4 linked regions of the Homo sapiens genome follow. The protein of the gene in region 1 interacts with the protein of each later gene in a pairwise test. Each region holds a gene or a part of one and is shown in the gene's direction. Other genes may lie near its edges.

Region 1 (7,000 bases):
CTTCCTTGGTGCTCCCTCTGGGCCCCTGATCCTTTGTGAAGGCCAGTCAGGTTTCCCATTCCTATTGTGTCTTATAGTCCACTTGGTAGATGGCGTGATCCGTCTTTACACAGAGGGAGCCTCATCTCCTCCTGGGCCACATTCCTCCTGCAGCTCCCATCGCTCCTTGGCCAGGACCCAAAACCTTCTGTGACTGACCCCTGCTGACCTCATTCTCTCTGCTCCTCCAGTTCCAAGCCTAGCCCCCCTGCCCATCTTGCGGCTCACACTCTTGCCCAAGCTGTTCTCCTCCACCAGGATGCCCTTGGCTCCCTTTTCAGCTTGGCAAATTCGTGCTCACCCTTCAAACCCCTACACAGATGACCTCCCTTGGAAAGGTTTTCCTGATGTCGCTGCCTCCTGGAACCAGGTGGTCTTGCCTCTCTGCGCTGCCTTTGGGACCTGTATATTTGTCAGTGTGGCATGGCTGCCTGCCTCCCGTTGAAGGGCAGCATCTTGACTTTACTCACCTTGAGATCGCCTGTGCCCAGATGGGCCTTTGGCCTGGCCCAGAATCGGTGGTCATCAAGGGTGTACAGAACTCACCAGGACCCAGGAACCTGTTGCAGATAAAATCACTCTCCCCCACGTTCCCAACTTTTAGACTCACAGCCCTCTTACTTCCCAGCATTCAAACTTCTAAATGGCCTGTATGTATTCACAAAGCAGGCAAAAAGCCCCCAGAGGAACACCACCCCCCACCCCTGCCTCTGGAATACATTTGCTTTGACTTGGAATTGTAGGTGAAATTCATCTTCCTGGCCTACTTCAGTTTGAATCAGTTGGCTAGCCAGGTGCGGTGGCTCATGCCTGTAATCTGAGCATTTTGGGAGGCTAAAGTGGGTGGATCACTTGAGGCCAGGAGTTGGAGAGCAGCCTGGGCAACATAGCGAAACCCTATCTCTACTAAAACTACAAAAATTAGCTGGGCGTGGTGGTGCACACCTGTAGTCTCAGCTACTTGGGAGGCTGAGCTGGAGGATAGCTTAAGCACAGGAGATGGAAGTTGCAGTGAGCCGAGATCGCACCACTGCACTCCGGCCTGGGTGACAGAGTGAGACCCTGCCTCAAAACAAAACAATTGGAATTGGATGGCATTTAGTGAGCATCTACTATATGCCAGATATTGAGCTGTGATCTCTAGGGGTAAAGAGACATGAACTACTGACACCGTGCTTGCCTTCAGAGGGCTCACAATCTAGTGAGCTTGATTTCTGTGAGTGCAGAGCAGAAGCTGAGGTGGGAACAGAGAAGTAAAAAATGGACACACCAGAGGCAGAAGAGTGACAGCCTCCCAGCTGTTTGGGGCAGTTGAGTATGGTGGGGAAATAGCTCAAGCTGTCTTTGCAGCCCCTGAAGACATCACTGTACCCTATTGAACCATCTCAGGGTGATGCTATTGTTACGCTGATCCCTGCAACGCTTGCCTGTGCCCCAGCCCAGGATCCTGGCAGCTGCAGAGAAAATGGCAGTAACACTACCTCAAACCAGGACCACGCCCTCAGAGCCTGCACCCTGGGCCACCTGGGAGTCAGAGACCTTCACCTGGGCTATGGGGTTCTGGGTTGAGGCTGGGGTTCCCGGCCTAGGGAAGGGCTTCCGGGTTGAGGCCGGGGGTCCTGGCCTAGGGAAGGAGATGCCCCTGTGTGCTGGGTTACAAGGTCATGGCCCTGGGAACACACTTCCTTTTCTTTCTGGGTCATTTCTGCCTCTGCAGTGAAGGATGCCACAGGGTACACCCTCTCTGCTGTCATGACTCAGGACAGGAGTTCCTGGTCACAGCTGAGTCTTCGGATGAGGTGAGGGGTAGCATGCTCCTGTGCTCTGTTGCCTAAGGCAGGGCAGCCTACAACCCACGTTAGAAACAGCGTCAGCACTAAGGGCTAAAATAAAACTACTTTCAACATTTAAAGGGGTCATCTTCATTCACCTGCAAATTCTTTTCTTTAAAACCACCCCTTCCCTCGGGGCAGGATACGTGAGGCCTTACGCCTGACGGGCACCAGAGGCCCTCTTCCGGAAGTAAGCCCTCACTGCAGTGGCATGACCGTGGGGTGTGCTGTGTGGTGCTGAATCTCAGGAGTGATTCCCCACACCCCTGAACCACAACCGCAGTGGCTTTAGACTTAAACAAGAGCCTCTGGTTGCTGGGCCTGCCAGCAGGAAGATGGTAACCCTGTTCTAGAGTTAGCATCTGCAGGGGGCTTGGGGTAGTGGAGTGAGATGGTGAGACCCAGGCTTGGTCTCCCTGGCTCTTGCTGCATGATGGGGAGACCACACACCTGATCTGCCCAGGAAGGTCCCGGTTGACACCGACTGCCTCTGCTAAGTTATTAGGAGGCCCCTTTCACGCTCGAAGATACCTCATTTGGATGATACAATGTTACCTTACCTACTCTGTGACCTTTGACAAGTCTGGTTGCCTCCGTAGCCCTCAGCTTTCTCATGTGCAAATGACAGATGAAGTGCGCATATCTTGGAATCTTGGAAGTGATGGGGGTGTTTGATGGGACCTATCTTGTCAATGCCCTGCAGCCAAAGACCACTGGGAGCACACCTCACCTGTGGTTAACAAGCTGGGTTTCTTCTTGCAGTAAGGGGGAATGAACACCACAGCGAACCAGGGGGAGTCTCTGAAAGAGGTATTAGAAAGGACTTGTTACTGGATTTGGGCCAGTGCTCAGTGGCTTGGCGAGGGTTTAAGAAGCAGGCCTTTGCTCTGAACCGGCTGCTGTCAGGAGGCGGGGCTCATTCTATGACTGGGTGTCTTCTTCAACCTTATCTAGGATAAAATAAAATCATAAAACACTGTGCTTCATGCCCCTGGCCTTGCCAACTTGCAGTCCCCTCTAAGAGCATCAGAGCCTCTGGGGCACCCCCTCTCCACTGGGAGAGGGGCAAGGTGCTGGTGAAGGTCCTGGGGAGAAGGCTGGGAGGCTCTGAAAGGGTCAGGAGGGGCCTTTTGGGGTGGCAAAGCCTGGGATTCTAGCGTTCAGCTCCAGGCTCCAGGTGTGTGTGCCAGGGTGAAAATTCCTGCTCTTGGTCACTCTCCTGTCAGGTTGGAGGGACTCTGGAAGTTTCCACCCTCTGGAGAGGGAAAGGCCCTGGAGGGATGGCCCCTGCCCTTAACTGGAAAGGGTGGGCAAGGGAAGGCAGGGGGCCCAGGGGCAGGGAACCTGGGCTCTGCCGACCGCTCGCCATGACCTTGGGTACATCACAGCCCTCCCTGGGCTCCTCTATTCTCTGTAAAATTGGGTGAGGGTGGGCAAGATTCCACTTCTGCTCCCAGTCCCTGAGCACTGTGTGCCTGTCACCATGCAAGACACCGTCACCCCTATTACCCTATCTAGTCCGTGAAACAGCCCTGGGGGACCGATCTGTCGACCCCACATTGCAAATGTTTGTTATAAATCCCAGGCTCCAGAATCAGAAAGACCTGGTTTTACCTTCAGCCTCAGCCAGTTCCTTGCTGTGTGGCCTTGGACAAGTCACAGCCCCTCTCAGAGCCTCAATGTCCACATTTATGCAGTGGGGAGGATAATACCTCCCTCTTGGGCTTTTGTGGAGAAGAACTGGGTATAATGCCTCAGGCACATTTAGGTGCTTAGACAGTGGTGGTCTTCTTCCCTCTCTGGGTCTCTTCCCTCATCTATGCATCAGGGAGCCACTGTCCTGCCTATAAATAAAACAATAGGTGAGTGCATTCACCAGGAGGAAGATGCATGTAAAAGCTTCTTGCAAGGGGTAAAGAAAGTCTGTGTGCCCAGTGCTGAGAGGCAGGTGAGCCAACAGCAAGTGCAGGGACTAAGGTGTATAAAATGCCTCCTGTGGGGCAGGAGGGGAGCAGCATGCTGAGTGAGAGAGGCAGCACCCTGGAAGCTTGGAGGAGGAGCAGGATTGCTTGTGCTGTCAGACAGGTGTCAAACAGGGTTCCAGGCAGCTGCTGAGTGTCAGGTGCTTCCCATAAATCATTTCATTGAATTTAATTTTTCCATCTGCCCTGAGAGATGGGTATTACCAGGGGAGAAACTGATATTCAAACATAGGTCCTCTGAGCCTGTGCTCTTCCCACGATGCCACCTGGTCCACGTCATAAGACTCAACAATGCACCTGTTGTGCTGTGCACACTTTTCTTCATTTCATCCTCGCAGCTTGCAAGGTTGGTGTATTGTCCCCATTTTATTTTTATGTATTTATTTATTTATTTTGAGATGGAGTGTTGCGCTTGTTGCCCAGGCTAGAGTGCAATGGCGCAATCTCAGCTTGCTGCAACCTCCACCTCCCGGGTTCAAGTGATTCTCCTGCCTCAGCCTCCCAAGTAGCTAGGATTACAGGCGCCTGCCACCACACCCAGCTAATTTTGTATTTTTAATAGAGATGAGGTTTCATCATGTTGGCCAGGCTGGTCTTGTACCCCTGACCTCAGATGATCTACCCGCCTCAGCCTCCCAAAGTGCTGGCATTACAGGTGTGAGTCACTGCACCCAGCTGTCCCCATTTTATAGATGAGGAACTGAGGCTCAGAGAAGCTGAATAATTTGCCCATCCTTGCGGAGAAGAGCTAAATGGAGGAGAGGAGGTAGAGCTGCAGGGCTTTCTGTTCCTGCCAGGAATCATCCAGTAGCCCCAGGCCATTCTGACCCTAGTGGGACAGGAGAAAAATCAGTATCAATAAGTCAGGCAGCAAGGTTCCACTGAGCATCTCCCTGTGCTAGTGTGGAGGGAGACACCCCCCTGCAACATCTTCCATGACTGCCTATTGCCCACAAGATAAAATTCAGATTCCTCAGGCTGGCATTTGAGGCCCTTCATGATCTGGCCCCAACTGCCCCATCCAGCTGAATCATCTGCCATGTGCTCCCGTGCAGCAGCCCCGGCATCCTCACCTTTCCAGCCACCCTGCCTTGGCTCATGCTGTTCCCTCCACCCAGGTGCCCTTCATCCCCTTCTCTGTCATCCCTCAAACCCTACCTGTTCCCTGGAGCCTGAATTAGCCCTGCTCTCCCCTTCCACGGTGGAATCCATCTCCACTGCACCCTCTCCTCCGAATCCCTCCTAAACTGTGTGCCCCGCTCTGTCCCCAGCACTTCTGAATGACTAGCTGTGTGAGTACCAGTCTCCCCACATGGACTGGGAGGTCCTTCAAGGACAGGGGCCTCTTCCCCGCCAATACTTCTATCCCCAGGACTTAGCAAAAGCAAGGAACAGTAGTGCTGGTGGAACAGAATTGAACCGAACCGGGTGCCCACTCTGAAGGCTCATGGCCCAGGGGCATGGACTCCTAGCCCAGGGCTGAGGAGCACCAGCTTTGGAGTAAACAGCGCTGGGTTTGAGACTAGGCTTCCCTACTGGCCAGCTCTGTGACTTTGGCCAGGAGACTTAGCCTCTCTGGCCCTCAATTTCCTTATTAATAAATTGAGGTTAGTGATATCGACCCAATAGGCATGTTGTGAAGATTGGATGAGATCATGCATATTGAGTGTAGCATGTGCCTAGCACCTGGTGAGCCCCCAGTAAAGTCAGTTATCATTGTTAGTGTTGCCTGCAGAGATGATGTTACAATGTGTAGACATCAGGTGCCCATGTGCACCTGGGTCGTTCAAGCCTACAAGCACTGTGTCATCCAAGCACATGTATAATTCGAGCTTTGTATCGTCAGTGCTTCCAAGTGCCTGTCAATGGACCCAGCTGGGCTGGTGGCATCAGACTCTCCTGGGAAACTTTAAAAATCTAGTGTCCTAGAACCATCCTCAGAAAAGTCTGGGATGGCCTGGGTTTTGCATAAGCAAGCCTGGTGATTCTTAAGTGCTGAAGGGCTTAGTTGTTTGTTTTTCTTAAATGAGTTATCAAACATTGGATAGCTGGTAGGCAACCCAGAAGAGGTGGGAGTTGCAAGCCAGGACTTAAAACAGTAGAATGAAGGAGTGAGGGTATCTCAGGCAGAGGGCATGGCATAGGCAAAGCCTTGGGGGAAGGAAGGAGGAAGAAGGAGACTGTCCTGGCTGGAGTGGTGGAGGACAGGGTCAGAGAGGGAGGCCGCAGCTTGGCCATGGGGCTTCTTGAATTCCTGCCACGGAGCTCAGATTTGTTCTGATGGGCAAGGGGGATTAATTGATGATTCTTGAGCAGAGGAGTGACATGAAAGAAACATTCAGGTCATATACTAACAGATACAAAAGGGAAAGGTGGCACGTATTGGTGGCAAGAAGGCTGGTTTGTGCCCTGCGGCAGGGATTTCATTCTCAACCTGCCCTGTGAAAGGTTTTTTCCACTCATGTCACTGGGTGGATGCCAGGTCAGGACTGAAGCTTGCAGAGCCGGTGTCCTGGATTCCTCCTTGCTGACCACAAATCCAGCAGAGCAGGGCAGGGAACCCTGTGGCAGAGGCTGTTGCTTCCCGCCAAGACACCAGGGCCCTGGCCAAGGCAGTGCTCAGTTCACAGATGACCCAGGACAAGGGCAAATGAGGGCCCCAGTGACTCAGGAAGTCCCCAGGTCAGAAAATGGGCCCCACTGGTGATTCTGCAGATAGTCCCTGCACATCCCGGAGAAGAGCAGACACGGTGTGGTGGGTAGGTGGATGAGACCAGGCTTTGGGGATCAGATCAGCAAGCCTGGGGGTAAGGAGGGCTAGATTTTATCTAGTCATGTGTTCATTCATTTGTTCACTTATTCATTTATTCTAACCACAAACACTATGCACCTGCTTTGTGCCACCCCCTGTGCTAGGTACTGGGGGAAGAGACATGCATCTGACCCATGCTTGTCTTGGGGGAACCTCTACTACCCCGGGCTAACTGCAGAGTGAACAGTGACAGGTCAGTGCTGAGCAGAGGGAAGCACGGCGGGGATCTGACCCCACCTGGAGAGTCGGCAGGAGCTTCTCAGAGAGGAACTCCCACCAAGCTATGTCCTGAAGGATTCGCTAGGGAAGAGCAGGGAGGGAGAACAGCTTGGGCG
Region 2 (7,036 bases), on another chromosome or scaffold:
GTGCAACTGAGACACAGAGTGGTAAAAATGATACTTTCTGGTTCTGTTATATTTTTGGAGATATTAAGCTGACCACCAAATTACAGGCTTGTTAATCCAAACATAAAAACAAATGCATGTACTTAATTTATGTATCAAAATTAATCACCCTGGCCAGTGCGGTAGCTCATACCTGTAATCCCAGCACTTTAGAGGCTGAGTCAGGAGGATTGCTTGAGCTTAGGAATTGAAGACCAGCCTGGGCAACATAGTGAGACCTTGTCTCTACTGAAAAGTATTTAGCCAGGTGTGGTGACACATGCCTGTAGTCCCAGCTACTCGAGAAACTGAGGTGGGAGGATTGCTTGAACCCAGGGAGGGCCAAGGCTACAGTGAGCTGTGATCATAACACTGTACTCCAGCCTGGGTGACAGAGTGAGAACCTGTCTCAAAAAAAAAAAGAAAAAAATTAGTCACCCAATATTACTGAAAATAATAGTGCATGTTTGTATTTTACACGTACCCCTGAGCTATTTGGGGTCACAAGGAAGCTGTTAGTATGTGGTTCTCATATTCTTACCGTACAAGAAAGCAAAAGCCCCTTGAGGTCCCTCAGTATCCCTTCCCACCACCTGCTCCCCACAGGTGGAGAAATTGCCTGCTTTTAGGGAGATAGCAGTGTAGGCCTCTGAAGTAGAGGAGAGCCACCAGGGATGGGGAGTGGTTGAAGTATCTTTATTTTTTAATTATAGAAGTAATACACAGTTTTTTTAAAGTTTAAACAAAATATAAAAAGCAAACCCTCCCTTAGTCTCCATTACACAACTATATGTTAAGAATCTTATTAAACCAACTTGGTACTATTTGTATAATGCCTAGCAGTTTCAGAACGGGGCTGGGCACCTGGCTCTCAGACCCCCAGCTCTGAGACCCTCCATCCCCTTTTAGAAGATCTCATTGTTTTTAAAAATATCTCCTACCTTTTTATATTATTATTGATTGAATGCATGAGGTCAAAGTAATACATCTGCACATAAACCAAAAGGTGAGAATTCTGGGTAATACAAAATAACCCAGAACCCAAGCAGTCTTTTTTAAACTATAGATTATAACCCACGAAAAGGTCAGAAAGTCAATTTTGTGACTAGCATTCGAAGAAAAATGAACCAGAGTGGAAAATATATTTCAGTAAATGTGATGGTATGTGTGTTTGTGTGTGTGTCCTAGAATATGGTATAAATGTATTTCTTTGTCGGGGTTATGTTAGTGAGCATGTACCATTCTAGAAGGTGTAGCACCATCACTAGCCCAACAGAAATTTATCTTGGCCCAGCGCGGTGGCTCGTGCCTGTAATCCCAGCACTTTGGGAGGCCAAGGCGGGTGGATCACTTGAGTCCAGGAGTCCAAGACCAGCCTGGGCAACACAGTGAGACCCTAAAAAAATTTGTTTTAATAAATAAATAAGTTTATCTTGGCCAGGTGCGGTGGCTGACGCCTGTAATCCCAGCACTTTGGGAGGTCAAGGCAGGTGGATCACTAGAAGTCAAGAGTTCGAGACCAGCCTGGCCAATGTGGTGAAATTGTGTCTCTACTAAAAAAAAATACAAAAATACAAAAATTAGCCGGGTGTGTGGCTGGGCACAGTGGCTCACACCTGTAATCCCAGCACTTTGAGAGGCTGAGGTGGGCAGATCACCTGAGGTTGGGAGTTCAAGATCAGCCTGACCAACATGGAGAAACCTGGTCTCTACTAAAATTACAAAATTAGCCGGGCATGGTGGCGCATGCCTGTAATCCCAGCTACTCGGTAAGGCTGAGGCAGGAGAATCGCTTGAACTCAGGAGGCGGAGGTTGCAGTGAGCCAAGATAGCGCCATTGCACTCCAGCCTGGGCAACAAGAGAGAAACTCTGTCTCAAAAAATAAATAAATAAATAAATAAATAAATTAGCCGGGTGTGGTGGGCGCCTGTAATCCCAGCTACTCAGGAGGCTGAGACAGGAGAATCATTTCAACCCAGGAAGCGGAGGTTTCACTGAGCTGAGACCGCGACGAGCCTGGGTGACAGAGCAAAAAAATAAATAAATAAAGTTTATCTCTAAGAATCATAGAGATGGATTCCCTATAGAAACTCATAAGGTTGGTGAAATGATAAATGAGGCTTTTTTTTTTTTGGTTTGGTTTTTTTGTTTTTATTTTTGTAGAAACAGGGTCTGTGTTGCCCAGCCCTGTCTCAAATTCCTAGGCTCAAGAGATCTACCCGACTGGGCCCCTGAAGTGCTGGGATTACGGCCTTGAGTCACCATGCCAGCGAGTTAGTTTTTAAGCCGTGGTTTTGTGCCCTCAGTTCAAGATGCAGGTGCCTGTCTTTTACTGTTGAGAATTTGCACTAATGATGAAGGGTGATAAGAAACCATACCATAACTCAGCACCTGTTCTGTTTTTTACCGTAGGAATTGATTAGATTCTTACACAAGAGCATAGCTCAAAAGAGAAAGATTGTGTTAGGGTGAGGTTTACTGCAAGGGAGTGCTGAGGGCTGACACTGTGTGAGGCCTGGGCTAACGGGCCCAGGGCAAGGATATGCCCTGAGGTGATTAAGAACAGTGCTGTCTTCAGGAGCTGAGGGTCAGCAGGCAAGACAGACACAGCCAAAATGAGCAAGGTGGTGGAGGGGGCGGGCAGGTGTGCGGGTGTGGCTGGAACAGCCCGTCTTCAGGAGCTGAGGGTCAGCAGGTAAGACAGACACAGCCAAAATGAGCAAGGCGCTGGAGGGGGCGGGCAGGTGTGCGGGTGTGGCTGGAACAGCCCGTCTTCAGGAGCTGAGGGTCAGCAGGCAAGACAGACACAGCCAAAATGAGCAAGGTGGTGGAGGGGGCGGGCAGGTGTGTGGGCGTGGCTGGAACAGCCCGTCTTCAGGAGTGGAGGGTCAGCAGGTAAGACAGACACAGCCAAAATGAGCAAGGTGGTGGTAGGGGCAGACAGGTGTGCGGGTGTGGCTGGAGCAGCCACCTGGAGGGCACCCTGGACAGTTCTGGCATCCACGCAGCCCACGCCATCTTGGAGGCCAGTGCCTGGGCTTCTCAACTCCAACTTCCCGTCCAGGTTCAACTCCTTCCACCCGGACACGCGCAAGCCGATGCACAGAGAGTGTGGCTTCATTCGCCTCAAGCCCGACACCAACAAGGTGGCCTTTGTCAGCGCCCAGAACACAGGTGAGGCCCAGCTTGCGGGGCGGGAGGGCTGGCCATGGGAGGCTGCTGCCTGCATTCGAAGCAGGGGTGCAGGGATGCCCATGTGCAACCCTGCTGAGGCATGTGCTGGTGGGGACCGTGGGGATGGCCCTGAGTGTTGAGAGTGGTCCTGGGAGCCTGCGGGGCCGACTGTGTAGCTGTAGGGGCCTCCGGCACACAGGTTGTGTGCGTGCAGCCCCCTGACCATGAGGGCCCGTTTACCCAGTGCCACGTCTGCAGAAATGGCCATCAGCTGTGTGCATTCATTAGGAATTGCTGGAAAACAGGTTGGGCACAGTGGCTCACGCCTGTAATCCCAGCACTTTGGGAGGCCTAGGTGGGCAGATCACTTGAGGTCAGGAGTTCAAGACCAGCCTGGCCAACATACTGAAATCCCGTCTCTACTAAAAATACAAAAATTAGCTGGGTGTGGTGGTGCATGCCTGTAATCCCAAGCCACTTGGGAGGCTGAGGCAGGAGAATCACTTGAACCTGGGAGGCAGAGGTTGCGGTGAGCCAAGAATGCGCCACTGCACTCCAGCCTGGGCAACAGAGCGAGATTCTGTCTCAAAAAAAAAAGAAAAAAAAAAAAACCAGCCTGCGTGACTCTAGATCAGTGTTTCTTCCTGGACGTCCATTCCCACCTGCGACTTCTGCCACTGTATGTGCTAGGGGTGGTTCTGCCAGGCTGATTGGTGGGTGGAGGTGGGAGGGCTGGGGCCCAGTCTGGAGAGGGTGGCCTTCCATAGAGCACCTGCCTGTTCTGTGAGGAGAGTTGTGGCTTTCCCTCCGTATCCACAGGGTGAAGTGGGGAGGAGGAGAAATATCGTTGCTTCCACAGCTGCAGAGTTGGGGCCTCCTGTGGAGTCCCGGCTTGCAGGCAAGGAGAGTCAAGGCTGCCTCTCTGCAAGCCGAGCAGCTGCTGGGTGAGCTGACTGCCCTTCCCTTGCAGGCGTGGTGGAAGTGGAGGAGGGCGAGGTGAACGGGCAGGAGCTGTGCATCGCATCCCACTCCATCGCCAGGATCTCCTTCGCCAAGGAGCCCCACGTAGAGCAGGTGAGCCCAGCCCTGCTCCCAGCACGCTCCTGTCTTCTGTTTGCAGCGGTCTGTGGAGTCAGCCTCTTCCTCTTCCGTGAGGTAGTGCGTGTCTTGCCACTGTGTCTCACAGGCCTGTCTTCACTGTCTCCTTCTTTTCCCTTCTCGGACCATCCAGGGTGGATGTTCCCTAAATTCATTGCCCCCTCCTCGGCTGGTCAGTGGTGTGGTTTTTTTGAGGTTTGTTGTTTGTCACAAACATCCTTTTGCATTTGGGTTGTCCACGTTTACAGATATATCCATATCTATTGATAAATTTTTCCCAGTTAAATTGCTGGATCAAAGGACAGGTACATTTTAAATTTGATACACACTGTTAGATTGTATTTCTTCATGATTATCCTCCCACTATCTCTTGCATGAGGGCAGCTGGTTCCCTACTCCTTAACAACATGGTGTATTTTCAGAATTTCGGTCCTTTCAAATCTGAGAAATAAAAGATGAAATCTCACTCATGTTTTGAATCTAACTTAGAAGCAGGAGGGCTCATTCCCCATGCTCACTGGCTGTTTACGCTTCTTATTCTGTGCACTTGATATTTAAAGTCTTTGCCTGTTTTTCTGTGGATTGTTCTTTTTTGAGGCGGAGTTTCGCTCTGTTGCCCAGGCTGGAATGCAAAGGTGGGATCTCGGCTCATCGCAACCACCGCCTCTCAGGTTCAAGCGATTCTCCTGCCTCGGCCTCCTGGGTAGCTGGGATTACAGGCATGCGCCACCACGCCTGGCTAATTTTGTATTATTAGTAGAGACAGGGTTTCTCCATGTTGGTCAGGCTGGTCTTGAATTCCTGACTTCAGGTGATCCACCCGCCTCAGCCTCCCAAAGTGCTGGGATTACAGGTATGAACAACCGTGCCCGGCCAGATTGTCCTTTTTTTTTTTTAAAGATTTGTAGGAGCTTTCTGTATGCCATGGGTTAATCTGTTGTCTGCTTTATTTGTGACACATACTTCCCTAGTCTGTGGCCTGGTCCATGATGGGCTGTGCCCCACAGGTGCTCAGCTTTCCTGTTGTTGCCTCTGGGCTGTTTCCTTTACAATGTCTGGATTTGGGTTCTTGCTAAGGAAGTTGTTGTCCACTCCAAAATGATAAAAATATTCTCTCATTTTCTTTCTTTTTTTTTTTTTTTTTGAGACGGAGTCTCACTCTGTCACCCAGGCTGGAGTGCAGTGGAGCAATCTCGGCTCACTGCATGTTCTGCCTCCTGGGTTCACGCCATTCTCCTGCCTCAGCCTCCCGAGTAGCTGGGACTACAGGTGCCCGCCACCACACCCAGATCATTTTTTTGTGTTTTTAGTAGAGACGGGGTTTCGCTGTGTTAGCCAGGATGGTCTCGATCTCCTGACCTTGTGATCCACCTGCCTCGGCCTCCCAAAGTGCTAGGATTACAGGCGTGAGCCACCGCGCCCAGCCTGTTCTTTCATTTCTTGTATTCTTACAGCTTTCCTTTTTACATTACCACCTAGACCTTTAATCTCTCTCACATTTGTTTTTTGAGTGACGCAGCGTATAATTCTAACTCTTCCAGATGAGTGACCCAGTAGTCCCAACACCATTCATCGAATTCCATCCTGACTCCACAGATTTGGAATGTCATACATACATTAAAGCACATCCACATAAATATAGGGGTCTGTTTCTTTTTTTCTTTTTTCCTTTTTTTGAGAAGGAGTCTTGCTCTGTTGCCCAGGCTGGAGTGCAGTGGCACAATCTCAGCTCACTGTAGCCTCCACCTCTCGGGTTCAGGTGATTCTCCTGCCTCAGCCTCCCGAGTAGCTGGGATTACAGGCATGTGCCACCATGCCCAGCTAATTTTTGTATTTTTAGTAGCCATGTTGACCAGGCTGGTCACAAACTCCTGACCTCAAGTGATCCGCCTGCCTCAGCCTCCCAAGTGCTGGGATTACAGGCATGAGCCACTGTGCCCAGCCTCGTTTGTCTTTCTTCGTCTGCTTGTCCACTTCCTTACCAGTAACACATTTTTAGCTCTCACAGCTGTATATTACATGTTAATGTCTAAGGGAACGTTTCCCACATTTTTTCTCCAAATTTTCTTACTCATTCTTAAGCATTTCCTCTTCTAGATGAACTTTTGAATAAACATCTCAAGGCTTATAAAATGTACATCAAGACTGCATTGAATACATGAATGAATTTGGGTAGAATTGACATATTTTCATGGGTAGCAATATGCAGCGTGACAGTGTATTACGGTGACTTTAGGTCATGTTTTGTGTATTTTAGTATATAGAAAAGCTTTATTTCTTTATAGTTTTAATTATACAGGTCTTGTACATTTCATGTTAGGGTAAACTCAAGTGTTTTATCATTTTTGTTGCTTGTAAATAGATTTTTTCCCATTTAATCTTCAGATTGATTATTGATAATTGTGTGGACACTTCTGATTTCTCTGTGTTGAACTGGGCCACTGGTGTAACTTTCAGACAGCCAGGATCTTAGGCACAGCATGGATAGAACAACAGGCGTGAATGTTTGTTGCATGCTTGTCCCTGACTCTAGTGGAAATAGTTCTGTGTGTCACCACCTGTAAGATGCTCACTGTAGATTACTTACTGGTAGATAAGAAGGTAGCTTTTTTTTTTTTTTGAGACAGAGTCTCAATCTGTTGCCCAGGCTGGAATGCAGTGGCACGATCTCAGCTCACTGCAACCTCCGCCTCCTGAGTTCAAGCGATTCTCATGCCTCAGCCTCCCAAGTAGCTGGGGTTACAG
Region 3 (7,036 bases), on another chromosome or scaffold:
GATAGTCTTGATCTCCTGACCTCATGATCCACCTGCCTCAGCCTCCCAAAGTGTTGGGATTACAGGCGTGAGCCACCGCACCTGGCCACAAATCATTTTTAAAATTAGCAGTATGGTAGTGCACACCTGTCGTCCCAGCTGTTCAGGCAGTGGAGGCTGCCACTGCACTTCAGCCTGGCTGACAGTGAAACTGTCTCAAAAAAAAAAAAAAAAAAAAAAAAAAAGAAAGTGGGAAAGACTACCCATGACATGCAAAGTAGATCTAGAAGAGTCAATATACATCTAATAGGAGTTCCAGGAGGCATTAGAAATAGGAAAAGAAGAAATAACCACAGAGATAACAGAGATCGCGAAGGTAGGAGTGTCCAGGCACAGTCTTGGGCATCCTGAGCCAGGGAGAAATAAGTATCAGAGGACAAAGGACTGGCAAATATAGATCAACCCTTCCCTCTCTGGTCTGTTTCTTTGTCTGTACAGTGGGGACGAACAAGAAGTATGCCTTTTCTGAGAGCTTATGGAAAGATGTGTTAGGTTTGCTGACTGTTCCCCACTCTTCTTCCCTACCAGCTCACAGAAGGGATTGGGGTTGTGTGCCCTTATATGTTGTTTAACCTTTTTATCACATGTATTTATTTTGTGAAATTTTTAAAGTGTAAAAATTTTTTAGAAGTTAAAGCAGGGGTTGCCAGTATGGCTGGCTGCCTGTTTTAGTATAGCCTGTGATCTAAGACTGGCTTTTACACTTTTTATTTTTTTTATTTTGTATTTATTTATTTGTTTATTTATTTATTTATTTATTTTTGAGACAGAGTCTCACTCTGTTGCCCAGGCTGGAGTGCAGTGGCGTGATCTTGGCTCACTGCAACCTCTGTTTCCTGGGTTCAAGTGATTCTCCTGCCTCGGCTTCCTGAGTAGCTGGGATTACAGGTGCATGCCACCATGCCCGGCTAATTTTTAGTAGAGACGGGGTTTCACCGTGTTCCTCAGGCTGGTCTTGAACTCCTGACCTCGTGATCTGCCTGCCTCAGCCTCCCAAAGTGCTGGGATTACACGCATGAGCCACCGTGCCCAGCCCTATACTTTCTAATGCTTTGGGGAGAAAAAGAAAATAATGCTTCATGACCCATGAAAATTATATGAAGTTCAAATTTCAGTGTCCCTTGGAACACAACTATACTCATTCACTTACATATCATCTGTGACTGCTTTTGTGCTGCAAAGGCAGAATCAACTGGTTGTGACATTTACTGTCTGACCTAAAATATTTGCTGATTCCTGGTTTAGAGGTCAGAAATGGACTTATGCATATATAGGAATTTTGCTAATGATAAAGATGGCATTTCAAACTAGTGACAAGAGCATGGATTGCATGGTAAATGGCAAGAATTAGCTATCTATTTGAGGGAAAAATTACTTTTATTAGGATTACTTCAGGTAGGGAAGCTAAAATCAAGAAATAGGAAAAGATTGATAGATTTGAGTCTATTACCACCACCACCACCACCAACAAAACTTTGCTTAATAGGAAATAATATCTAACAGTTACTGAGCACTTATGCTTGTCATGTTTTACTTGAATAAGTGTTATAATTATACTCTAAGGTAGGTTCTGTAATTATTCCCACTTAACAGAGGAGGAAACTGAAGTTTACATATATTATGGAATTTGTCTGTAATGAAGAGTAGAAAACCATGATGCAGATCTTTGAATTCAGGCCATCTGGCTCCCAAGCCTATTGTGGACAAGACAAACTGAGAAAAAATATTTGCAACATGGTAACACCATTTTGTAGGTACTATCTACATCAGCACATAAAGATGTACCTAATTCCTTTAAAATATTCTGTTGTATAAATGTCTTCAGTTAATTTAACCTTTCCTCTATTGATGAACATTAAGTTGCTTATAATTTTATTTTGCTGTTACGTGTAACACTGATAAACATCCTATGTATGTGACTTTATATAGTAGTATGGATACTTCTGTAGTATAGAATCAGGAAAGTGGAATTGTGAATTGCTGGATTAAACGGCCTGTGCATTTAAATCAAGTTTGCTCTCCAAAAATGTGTGTGTGTGTGTGTGTGTGTGTGTGTGTGTGTGTGTGTGTGGAATCATAATAAAGGAATCATAATATCTTGGAAGGAACATTGACTGTTCAGGCAAAACTGCCTCATTTTTGAGAGGAGGCCCTGAGAGGTGAAGTGTTATGCCCAAGATTACATAGCTATTAAGTAGCTGTTACACTTGACTCTTTAACTGGTTTTTGCTGTGCCACAGTTTGGCACATTTTTCTCCTTTGTCTTGCTGAAATCCAGGTACCATGATTATAGTTTTCTCCAGAAACACGCTGTTAAAAGGATCCATTTGATATTACTTGTCCTTGGTACTCAGCACAGTGCCTGACACACAGTAGGTAATCAAGTATTTGTTGAAAAAGTGCTGCTTTCAGATGATCAGTACTTACAGACCACTTATTCAATAACATGTTGACAACCCATGCATCACTGTAATACTTATCAAGTAATCAAGAACTTATCAAGAAATGAAACATTCTGATCTCCTCCTTCCTAGATATTTACACTTCATAATGCTTTAGTTTTCTGACTGGTTATGTTTTCCAAATAATTGTGTGGCTTTGTTTTTGCTTTGTAAAAAATGAACTCAAAATTATAAATTTAGTTTTTGAAAACCTTAATGAGAAATTGTTCTGTGCAGAAAATTTAGGAAGATTATACAGAATATGTTTTATAATACACTCAAATGGATTATATCTTTCAGAGGGCAGTAGATTAGTCTTCCAAGTTAGCTTGACATACTGCATGCAATGTACATGTCCTGGAAATGATGCATAACATTTGTGTTCATAGTACCAAAAATTGTGTATAATCAAGATTGAGTAAAAACTCCTTAAGGGTCTTATTATTATGTAAGGGACCAGTGCTGTAGCATTAACTATCTTTAACACTTCTGTTGTCTCCAAGTCACAAGGCAAGGAGAAAAGATATGGTAAGACCTTTAAAGGAATATGTAAATATGTAGTACTCTATTTTTGGGGAGATGAGGGGCTTAGTTTTGTTTTTTAAATGCAAATTCATAATCAACAAATCTTTATACTTCAGTAAACAAACTGGAGGGGTTTTTTTTTGTTGTTGTTTTACAAATGCCTTTTTGGCACTGCTACTGAATCTGACTTGGCTTTATTTTTTAAACAGCTTCATTGAGGTATAATTGACATAAAATAAACCACATATTTAAAGTGTGCAATTTGATAAGTTTTAACATATGTATACACCTGTGAAATCATCACTGCAACCAAAGTAATGAGCAAATCCATTACTCCCAAAAGTTTTTTCACCCCTTTTTATAATTCCTTCCTGGTACCACCTCCCACAGGCAATCATTGACTGATTTACTTTCAGTTAACTACAAATTACCTTGCATTTTCTAAAATTTTATATAAATAGAATCATATAGTAAGTACTTCTGTTGCCTGGCTCCTATTACTCAGAGTAATTGTTGATATTTATCCATGGTGAAGCATGTGTCAGAGTTTATTCCTTTTTATTGCTAAGCAGTGTTCCATTGTGTATCTGTTTTACTACAGTTTGTCCATTCACCTGTTGGTGGACCCTGGGTTGTTTCTGGTTTTGGGCTCTACACCTAGAAGCTGCTATGAACATTTGTGTACAAGTTTTGGTATTGTTAAAGTATAAACTGAGGCAGAATAAAATTTTAAAGAGTTTTGTCTGAGCAAACAGCAATTCATGAATCAGACAGCAACAAATCAAAAGTGATTTGGGACTCCACCAAAGGAATGCAAGTGGAAGACTTCTATAGGATGAACAAGGAAACAAGGCAAAGAAAATATTTGATTAATTATATTTATATAGTTGCCTTGTTTAGTCCATCCTATTGGAAAGTCCCTAGTTATGTAAGTTAGTTGATGGCTTCTAATTGGCGTAGCCTAAGTTTGTTTGTTTCTTTTTTTTTTTTTTTTTTTTTTTTAAGAGACAGGGCTAGAGTGCTTTGGTGCGATCGTAGCTCACTGCAGCTTTGAACTCCTGGGCTCAAGTGATCCTCCCACCTCAGCCTCTCAAGTAACCAGGGCAACATGAACTACAGACATGCATCGCCACGCCTGGCTAATTTTTTAATTTCTTATAGAGGCAAGGTCTCGCTAGCTATATTGCCCAGGCTGATCTCAAATTCTGGCCTCAAGTGATCCTCCTGCTTCAACCTCCCAAGGTGCTTACAGGCATGAGCCACCATGCCCAGCCTGATTTTTCTTTAATATAGGCACAGACAAAAAATAACCAAAGTTTACATTTGCAAACAGCCCAAATTAAGTTTTGCTTCTATTGCTTATATTTGCAAGGTCAAGGTTGTTTTAATGGCTTAACTGGCTTTGTCCAGGGGATTTACAGACCTGGTCTCCATCTTATTTTAATAGTATGAATATGTGCTTTCATTTCTTTTAGGTAAATATCTAGGAATGGAATGGCTGGATCATATGAGTAGGCTTACTCACTTATTAAGAAACTTGGCCTGGACTACATAGCAAGACTCTCTCTCTAAAAAAAGATTTTTTTTTAATTAGCCAAGTGTATTAGTCTGGGTTCTCTAGAGGGACAGAACTAAGAGGATATATGTATATATGAAAGGGAGTTTATTAAGGAGAATTGACTCACACCATCACAAGGTGAAGTCCCATGATAGGTCATCAGCAAGTTGAGGAGCAAGGAAGCCAGTGGTGGATCAGTACGAGTCCCAAAAGTAGGGAAGCTAACAGTGCAGCCTTCAGTCTGTGCAGCCAAAGGCCCAAGAGCCCCTGGAAAACCACTGGTGTAAGTCCAAGAGTCCAAAAGCTAAAGAACTTGGAGTCTGATGTTCTAGGTCAGGAAGCATCCAGCATGGGAGAAAGATGAAGTCCATAAGACTCAGCAAGTCAGCCCTTCCATCTTCTCCTGCCTGCTTTATTCTACCCCCGCTGGCAGCTGAGTAGATGGTGCCCAACCAGATTGAGTGTGGGTCTACCCCTCCCAGTCCACTGACTCAAATGTTAATTTCCTTTGGCAACACCCTCACAGACACACCCATGAACAATACTTTGTATCCTTCAGTTCAGTCAAGTTGACACTCAATATTAGCCATCCCACCAGGTGTAGTGGCTCCCACTTGTAGCCCCAGATACTCGGGAAGCTGAGGCAGGAGGATCACTTGAGCCCAGGAGTTAGGCTACATTGAGCTATAATATGATAGAGGCACTGCGCTACAGCTCTGGTAACAGAGCAAGATGCTGTCTTTTTTTTTTTTTTAATAAGAAAATAATCTAACTTGTTAAGTTCATAACTTATTAACAAAACTATTTTATATTCCCATCAGCAGTGTATGAAAGTTCTAGTCCTTCCACGTTAACAACACTTGGTATGGTCATTCTTTTTAATGTTAGCCATTCTATTTTTAGCCCTTCTGTGTAGTGGTGTCTTATTATGGTTTGATTTGCATTTCCCTAATGACTAACAATGTTGAGCATCTTTTTTTTTTTTTTTTTTTTTTTTTTGTGGAGACGGGAGTCTCGCTCTGTCGCCCAGGCTGGAGTGCAGTGGCGGGATCTCGGCTCACTGCAAGCTCCGCCTCCCGGGTTCACGCCATTCTCCTGCCTCAGCCTCCCAAGTAGCTGGGACTACAGGCGCCCGCCACTACGCCCGGCTAATTTTTTGTATTTTTAGTAGAGACGGGGTTTCACCGTTTTAGCCGGGATGGTCTCGATCTCCTGACCTCGTGATCCGCCCGCCTCGGCCTCCCAAAGTGCTGGGATTACAGGCGTGAGCCACCGCGCCCGGCCGAGCATCTTTTTCAAGTGTTTATTTGAAGGGTTCAGGCCTTTTCCCACATTTTAATTGAGTTGTGTTTGTTATTATTTCATTTTGATCATTTTAAAATATATTCTTGGTACAAGTCCTTTATAAGACGCATGCTTTGCCCATATTTTCTCCAGGTCCATCACTTGTCTTCTCATTCTCTTAACAATGTCTTTGAAAGAGCACAGATTGCTAATTTTGATGAAATTCAATTTATCATTTATGCTATTGAATATCATATCTAAGAAATCTTTGCCTAACTCAGAGTGACAAAGATTTTATCCTATGCTTGCTTTTGGTTTTTTTCCATTTAGGTCTATGATTCACCTTGAATTACATGCTAGTGGATGTGGAGTGGTATCTAATTGTGCTTTTGATTTGCATTTCCTTTTTGGCTAATGGTGTTGAGCATCTTTTCATGTATTTATATAGGCCATTTATATATCTTCTTTAGAGAAATGTCTGTTCAGATCTTTTGCTTGTCGAGTTATCTTTTTTTTTTTTTTTTTTTGCTTTTTAAAGTAAGACAGACAAATGATTTACAAATGTTCTCTAATTGTATGGGTTATTTCTTCACTTTCTTGTTGATGTCCTTTGCAACACAAGTTTTTTTATTTTGATGAGGTCCAGTTAATATTTGTTTTGTCTTTGGTGTCATATCTAAGAAGCTGTTGCCTGATCCAAGGTCACAAATATTTACACATAGGTTTTGTTCTAAGAGTTTTCTAGTTTTGACTCTTATATTCAGATATTTGACCCATTTTGAGATAATTTTTGAATGTGGTGTGAAGTAGGAGTCTAGTTTCATTCTTTTGCCTGTAAATATCCAGTTGTCCCAGTACTATTTATTGAAAAAACTATTCTTTCTCCCATTGAACTGCCTTGCTATTCTTGTTGAAAATCAACTAACCATAAATGTGATGATTTATTTTTGGGCTTTAAGTTCCATTCCATTGACTATATGTCTATTTCTATGCCATACCACATTGTCTTAATTACCTGGGGCTCTGTAGTAATTTTTGGAATTGGGAAGTGTTTTCCTTCAATTTCATTTTTCTTGTTCAATATTATTTGGGTTATTCTGGGTTTCTTGAATTTGTATAAATTTTAAGATCAGCTTGCCAATTTCTGCAAGAAGTCCACTGGGATTCTTGAAGAGGATTGTGTTTAATC
Region 4 (7,158 bases), on another chromosome or scaffold:
GATGTGGAGAAAGGGGAACCCTGCTACACTGTTGGTGGGAATGTAAATTAGTACAGTCACTATGGAATACAGTATGGAGGTTCCTCAGAAAACTTAAAATACAACTACTGTATGATCTAGCAATTCTACTACTACGTATATATCCAAAAGGGAAATCAATACATTGAAGAGATATCTGCACTCACACGTTTATTACAGCACTATTCACAATAGCTAAAATATGGAATCAACCATCAATGGATGAATGGATAAAGAAGATGTGGTCTATATACACAATGGAATTTAGCCATAAAAAAAGAATATTGGGCCTGGCATGTTGGCTCACATCAAATCTCAACACTTTGGGAGGCCAAGGCAGGAGGATTGCTTGAGGCCTCCCTATTTCAAGAATATATGGAATAAAAATTTGGGTTTGCTATGTTTTTATTTTTATTATAATTTCTAATAAAGTTGTTTTTCCACTATCCCTTTATTGCTGCTTCTCAGGACTATTCATAAAATGACCAAAAATACAAAAAATAAAATGATAGTAAATGACAATGACTATTTTTCCTGATAATACCAAAGGTTAAATCAATACGTTTTTCCTTTTAGTAGCAACACAAGACAAGGGGATAGTTGCAAGAGGCTCCAGAGATCATTTAAATTATTTATGCGTAATTGGAACATATATTTGCTAGTGTACACTAGCAAGAAAAGAGCTGTAAACTGGCTATATGTTACTGCACCTTAAAAATGCATGTGGATGAATTTTCTTTTAAGAAAACTGTTAAACTAAAGAAAAACTATGTAACACACCTAGAATGTAATCTATCTGGCTCTGACAGATTCTCAAATGTTTAATCATTTAAAAAATTTGGGATAATAGTTTTTTGGAATTTTTTTTTTTTTGAGACAGGGTCTCACTTTGTCACCTACACTGGAGTGCACTGGCATGATCACAGCTCACTACAGCCTCAAACCTCTGGGGTCAAGCTAGCCTGCCACCTCAGCACCCTGAGCAGCTAGGACTACAGATATGTGCCATTATGCCTGAGTGACTTTTCTAAAATCTAAAATCAATTCTATATGTATTAAAAGTTATGTATTGCAAGCGCCTAAGGTCCAAAGTCTGGACTAGACTATTCACTAGCGATGATCTGGGCAATTAACTTCTTTGAATGTTAATTTCCTCATATGTAAAGTAAGAATAATGTCTACCTTGCAGGATTTTTGTGAAGAGCGAATAAATCAAATGAACCTAAAACAATGTTTGACATTTTGTAGGCCTTTGGCAAATGATAATTGCTACTTACAAAAGGCTATGATGTTATTTGGTTCTTTGGTGTCTGACCAATTTTAATCATGTTAGTGATTTTTTTCTTGGGCCTTGTTAATTGCAGTTCCCACAACTTCTCTTCAATCATCAACCAAGTTAAACTTATTTCATTCATCAGTTATTATTTACTGAAAACCTCCTATGTCACACACAATTTTAAATATTTATTCACTCTCTACACATAATTATTGTCAGAATACCTAGACAGAAAAATGCTAGAAAACAATGAATCTACAGAAGAAGTGGTTTATATCTTACTTTTATAGCACCCCAGTCAGATTATCATATAGCAAGATCTTAATAAAGATCTTAAACAGGGATAAAGTATATTTTCATAAACTATCACCATAGCAACATGTTCTATAAAAATATATTTTTTCAACTTATTTGACTAAGAAGAAAAGGATGTGAAATTATAGTAGAAGTGAAACAATAAAAAGGTTAGAAAAAAACAGGAAGCAAAACACGTTTACTAAATAACTATCAAGAGGATTCTACTGATACCTAATATACCACCACACTGCTTTATATAGTATGCCTTTAAAATATTAATAAAAGAATTTCTCACAGTAACAGGAAGAGACTCAAAAGCTAAGCAAAATAAAAACGACAGAAAGAACATGTGTACATGCCAAGAGTGGGCACTAATACTGTTCATTGGTGTACCGTACTGTGTGCTTTTTAGACTAAAAGATTTTCCAATGTTATAGTGAAGCCTATGAAATACCAACTACTCTAACAAGTTTTTATCCCATAAACCAAACAGATAGGAGTAAAAGATATGGGAATACATTTTCAATTTCATTGAATAGTAAGAATATTTCTGCTTGAAACATTCCTAGCCTGGCTCTCATTTCTACAATAGGAAACAGGATAAAAAGGGTGGCCTACACACCCTTTGAAATTCCATTTCTGAAATCACTGTCTTATTCTCGAATGTTAGAACTTTTTATGAGATCTGACATATTCTCAAGCAGCTGTGAAGTGCATTAAGGTATCAATGAGTATCCCCATCTACCTCTTCCCTCCCACTTTTCCAAAAATACAGCTGTCTTTGGAGACTTAAATGGTAAAAATCAACAGATAAAGGAGTCCTAGACAGATATGCAAAGTCACCTTAAGGATCAAAGCTGCAGAATAAGACATGGCAGTATGAGCATAATATAATAATAATTGATATTAGTAAAAGAACTCATCAATATAAATGGAGTGTGGATGGTCAGAAAAAGAAGAAAGTAAAAGAAAGCAAGATAAATATTGGCAATGCCTACTTAAATATCCATTGCCACGATAGGGATAACCTAGCTTCATGCTACCAACCATTCAGAATCGTAATTAATCCCCCATGCAGGAAGAAAAAAATATGATACTGGGATATGGGAGAAGGTCATCAAGCCTAGATTTGAAACCAGGATATAAAGAGCTGGAGTTACAGGCACCTACCACCATGCTCGGCTAATCTTTGTATTTTTAGTAGAGACGGGGTTTTACCTTGTTGCCCAGGCTGGTCTCAAACTCCCGGCCTCAGGTGATCCACCCACCTCGGCCTCCCGAAGTGCTGGGATTACAGGCGTGAGCCACCACACTCGGCCAGCGTTTTCCCTTAGACTCGAAATTTCGCTCCTATCGTCCCATCCTTGTAGTAAGAAAGTACTCTTTCTAAGGTTTAATAACAAATTTTACTCTTGGCAATTACAAGGAAATCGACTATATTAAAATAGCTAACGAGAGGAAATTACTGAAGCTACAAAGTCAAAGTCTCATAATCAAAGTTATCCTTGACAACTGACAAGAGTTGTTAGATCTTCTATTGGTCTTTCTGCTAATTCAACCCTAGTCTTAAAACAAAAATAGCCTCCTATTGCCTAATCCCTTGTACACACAAAACCACTGCACTTCGGTATTTCTAATACGAGAAAGTTTCTATATATCCAACCTTTCCTATCTTTGAGGGGCAGGCATGGTTAACGTGGTTCTCAGTAAGATATTCATTTACAACCAAGAGAAAATCCCAGGCTATCATCTCACATTCTTGTTTTACTTTAAAAACCTTTCTAACGTCATTTATTCTCTGACAACCTCAAAATTACTTTCTACAAAGCAAACTCTAGAAATCTAAAAATGCGAAGTGCGTGCTTGTGAGAAGGTACTAAGGAAATTCTTCCTTTAAACGTCAAATGTGAATTCTAACTTCTAATGAGTAAGACCCTCGAGATTTACAGCGGTGGTCTGGTGGAAAGAAAACCCTTGGCACTAGTAGCTCACAAAACCCCAGCCCATGGTTGAGGCGGAAGCGGCCAGATGCTCCCGGGCTTTCGACAAGCCGCCCTGGAAAGCAGGCCCGTCATCTTCAGCGGAAAGCTCTCTCACGTCTGGGCCCGCAAGCCCGGAGGGTTCGTCATAAACACACAAGGCAAGGATAGAAGCGAGGCCGAGGGGCTGGTCACGCAACTGTCAAACGAAGCCCACCCACCGACTGACAAGGCCCCAAGGGGACAAGCGATCCCCGCGCGGGATACTCACCCGTTACCTCAGGATCGCGACTACAACTCCCAGGAGGCTGCGCGAGCGACGGACCAACGCCCTTCCCAGAATGCAGCACAGCTGCATCCCTACCCCGCCCTCTCCTTTCTCCGCTCCTCCTGCTTTTCTACCCGTCGTCACCCGGGAGAGCCGGAGGTAGGGTTCGGGAGGAGGATCCCGAAGGCTCGGCGTGTCGCGTCAGACGCCGGGAGGGGGACGGGGCGGGGAGTAGTGGGGGAGAATGGGAGGACGAAGGGGAGGGGAAAGGACAGGGGAGGGGAGGGTAAATAGTGGGCCAGGCAGGAAGATGGCGGCGGTAGCGGAGGTGTGAGTGGACGCGGGACTCAGCGGCCGGATTTTCTCTTCCCTTCTTTTCCCTTTTCCTTCCCTATTTGAAATTGGCATCGAGGGGGCTAAGTTCGGGTGGCAGCGCCGGGCGCAACGCAGGGGTCACGGCGACGGCGGCGGCGGCTGACGGCTGGAAGGGTAGGCTTCCTTCACCGCTCGTCCTCCTTCCTCGCTCCGCTCGGTGTCAGGCGCGGCGGCGGCGCGGCGGGCGGACTTCGTCCCTCCTCCTGCTCCCCCCCACACCGGAGCGGGCACTCTTCGCTTCGCCATCCCCCGACCCTTCACCCCGAGGACTGGGCGCCTCCTCCGGCGCAGCTGAGGGAGCGGGGGCCGGTCTCCTGCTCGGTTGTCGAGCCTCCATGTCGGATAATCAGAGCTGGAACTCGTCGGGCTCGGAGGAGGATCCAGAGACGGAGTCTGGGCCGCCTGTGGAGCGCTGCGGGGTCCTCAGTAAGGTGAGCAACCCCTGGTGCCAAGGGACCCCTGGCCAGACTCACCTGCAGCGAGGCAATCCGCTGAGGCGGTGGGGTGGGGCTGGCGGGAGGCGCGGAACGTGCCGGGGTGCGAGGCTGAGTGTTGCTGCAGCGACTAGGGATGAGGCGGGGATATAGGGGCACTGTCCTTGTTGCCCGGGGGCTCGTCGGGGGCAGCCGAGGACCAGGGAAAGGGTGTATAAACCTGAGATCCAGTTTGGGAGGCCAGATGCGCGCCGTGACTTGGGACTTAGGGCGGCAGCTGTCCCGGGTGTAAGGAATCCGGGTTGGGCTTCAGCGGTGTCCGAACGACTGGGCATGGGAGCGGTTCAAGTCGGACCTCTTAAAAGAGGTTGGTCTCTCTGAGGATGCCAAGCCGAGTAGGTTGGGGGGCACTGCGGACGCAACTCTTTCGACAGAAGCTGGAGCGACTCAGCTTGGTGTTGAAATTTGAGGTGTTGAATTCTGCTAGGTTAGATGTAGTGAGACAGATGAATGTGGAGGACTTTCTCCCTCACCCTGTACCTTAGTTCAGAATAGAGATATTGAATCGGCACATGATGGGTACAGGAAATATTCATAGTAACTTGGAACATGTGAGAATGGAGACTGATCTTTAGTCCAGGAAGAGCATTACTTAATAATAAAATATTTTTGCGGTAAGGGGTCGAGGGTAAGGAAAAGATGTTTTATCTTTTATATATTTTTTAAAATCCCTGTATCAAAATTTTAGCAAAGCAGTCATTATAGGACTGCAGGTGGATGATCTCTTGATATTACATAGTTGTGGGGATTTTTTTTTTAAGTTTTTGCTGTAAGAAGATTCACGTAGCCTTTTTGACTTCTCTCTCCCTTCCTGTTAAACTTTTTTAGACATGGCTGGAGCTAGCAGTTAACTTGGAGAGGGGGAGCTGGGCCAGTCCCTCAACAAGCTGGTCATAAGATACTATGTCATGTGCAGCCAGTGGCTATTAAGAAATCACCCTGTTTCCAGTATTCATATTTGGCAAATCACTTGGACATTATTTGTGGAATTGTTTCATATTAGGCTTTTATAATGTCTAGAAAGCTAATGAGAAGGGGGCCAGGAAAGGCATGAGTAGTCAGAACTAAGGATTGCAAGTGTTGACTTTTATTTGTATAGCAGCAAAATTATGTTGTATATTGATGCTGTGATCATTCTTGAAATTTCAGTGCAAGGTTTTCAGTAACGAGAAGCTCCTCAGGATTTCTTTAGATTAAATGTATCCTGTAATTTAGGAATCTCTATTGAACACATTGTGTAGTAGGTATACATTTTCAGTTGGTAATAGGAAGTGGGTTACTTGCTTCTCAGTGATTTTGGTAGTTTCATCACTGCTCATAAGATGGGAAGCTGACTGCCATATTAGTATTGTGATGTGTTAAGTATTTTACGAAACAAATTGTACTTTTGACCTACTGATAATTACTTTTTTGGGGGTTGGGGGAGTGGAGTGACCGGGGGAAAAAGTAACCAGTGCTCTGGAGTAGGTATACTATAGATAAAAAAATGGAAGACCAATCTCGATATTTAAATGCATACAAATGTATTTGATCACCTCTATGGAAGGTGAATAGCTTAAATTTTGACTGTTGCTGCATATGTAGAATGAATAGGAATAAAGCTTTTGGTATTCTTGCTCAAAGCTATGAAGGAAATTTTCCTGAGATTTACCAATTTATGGTTATATACAGTTTTCTGGAAGCTTTTTAATCAAGGGTATTCTAAATTGAGTATATATACTCATACTGAGTATGGTAGATGTTTTTAAATGTAAATTATATAGTTTGAATTCTTTGTATTCACCTGGTAATTTAAACAAAGGTCAGAACTCGGATTTTGTTCTTTTCCTTCCATTGAGTAATGTAAATAAGTCCCGGTACAATTCATTTTGTTTCTCCCCCAAAATGGGGTGGATTTGGAATGGGCTTGGGTAAATTTATATTAGAAATATACCAGTTCAAAGGGTATTTTCCATATGGTAATCTGAAATACATGGAAATACCTATGAAGCATATTTCTTATAAATCACTTAAGTGTATAGATTCCAAAAATACTAGATAGACAATAATTCTATCTAGTTATAGCAAGTATCGTGATGGATCATGGTGGGGAAAAGATGCATGCCTTAGTAGGACTTGAGAGCACCTAAGCCTGGATAAAATAATCTCATTCAATTTCTGAATTTCCTCCATCCTTCATGGTTTACCTTCTGTTTTTCCACACACCAAACTGTTTGAAATTCTGTCCATCCTTAAGAGTCCAAGCCAAATACTGTCCTTTCCATAAAGCCTTTTCTTATTTTGCCATCATTCAAGACCTCCTTCACTTGAATTCCCATAGCATTTTGTTTGTAGCTTGCTTCTGACTCTTATTCTAAATATATATTTTTTTCTCTTGAGTTTGTGTCTGCTGGCCTGTTGGCCACAGTAATATTTGATTCCCCTGCAGTGTCTAGCATATTGCCTTATCTG

Evidence for each region.
Region 2: the proteins of BSND (region 1) and THAP4 interact in binary tests that used the Homo sapiens proteins (3 or more experiments, as listed by UniProt).
Region 3: the proteins of BSND (region 1) and CSGALNACT2 interact in binary tests that used the Homo sapiens proteins (3 or more experiments, as listed by UniProt).
Region 4: the proteins of BSND (region 1) and CERT1 interact in binary tests that used the Homo sapiens proteins (3 or more experiments, as listed by UniProt).

Annotation. Positions count from the first base shown.
Region 1 is NC_000001.11:55,008,933-55,015,932, forward strand, and holds part of BSND (barttin), read left to right. Parts: 3' UTR 1-7,000.
Region 2 is NC_000002.12:241,599,127-241,606,162, reverse strand, and holds part of THAP4 (peroxynitrite isomerase THAP4), read left to right. Parts: intron 1-3,083; coding exon 3,084-3,193; intron 3,194-4,163; coding exon 4,164-4,267; coding exon of another isoform or gene 4,268-4,348; intron 4,349-7,036. UniProt on the Homo sapiens protein: Heme-binding protein able to scavenge peroxynitrite and to protect free L-tyrosine against peroxynitrite-mediated nitration, by acting as a peroxynitrite isomerase that converts peroxynitrite to nitrate.
Region 3 is NC_000010.11:43,141,428-43,148,463, forward strand, and holds part of CSGALNACT2 (chondroitin sulfate N-acetylgalactosaminyltransferase 2), read left to right. Parts: intron 1-7,036. UniProt on the Homo sapiens protein: Transfers 1,4-N-acetylgalactosamine (GalNAc) from UDP-GalNAc to the non-reducing end of glucuronic acid (GlcUA). Required for addition of the first GalNAc to the core tetrasaccharide linker and for elongation of chondroitin chains.
Region 4 is NC_000005.10:75,508,598-75,515,755, reverse strand, and holds the start of CERT1 (ceramide transfer protein), read left to right. Parts: upstream 1-4,126; 5' UTR 4,127-4,250; coding exon of another isoform or gene 4,251-4,548; coding exon 4,549-4,644; intron 4,645-4,686; exon of another isoform or gene 4,687-4,982; intron 4,983-7,158. UniProt on the Homo sapiens protein: Shelters ceramides and diacylglycerol lipids inside its START domain and mediates the intracellular trafficking of ceramides and diacylglycerol lipids in a non-vesicular manner.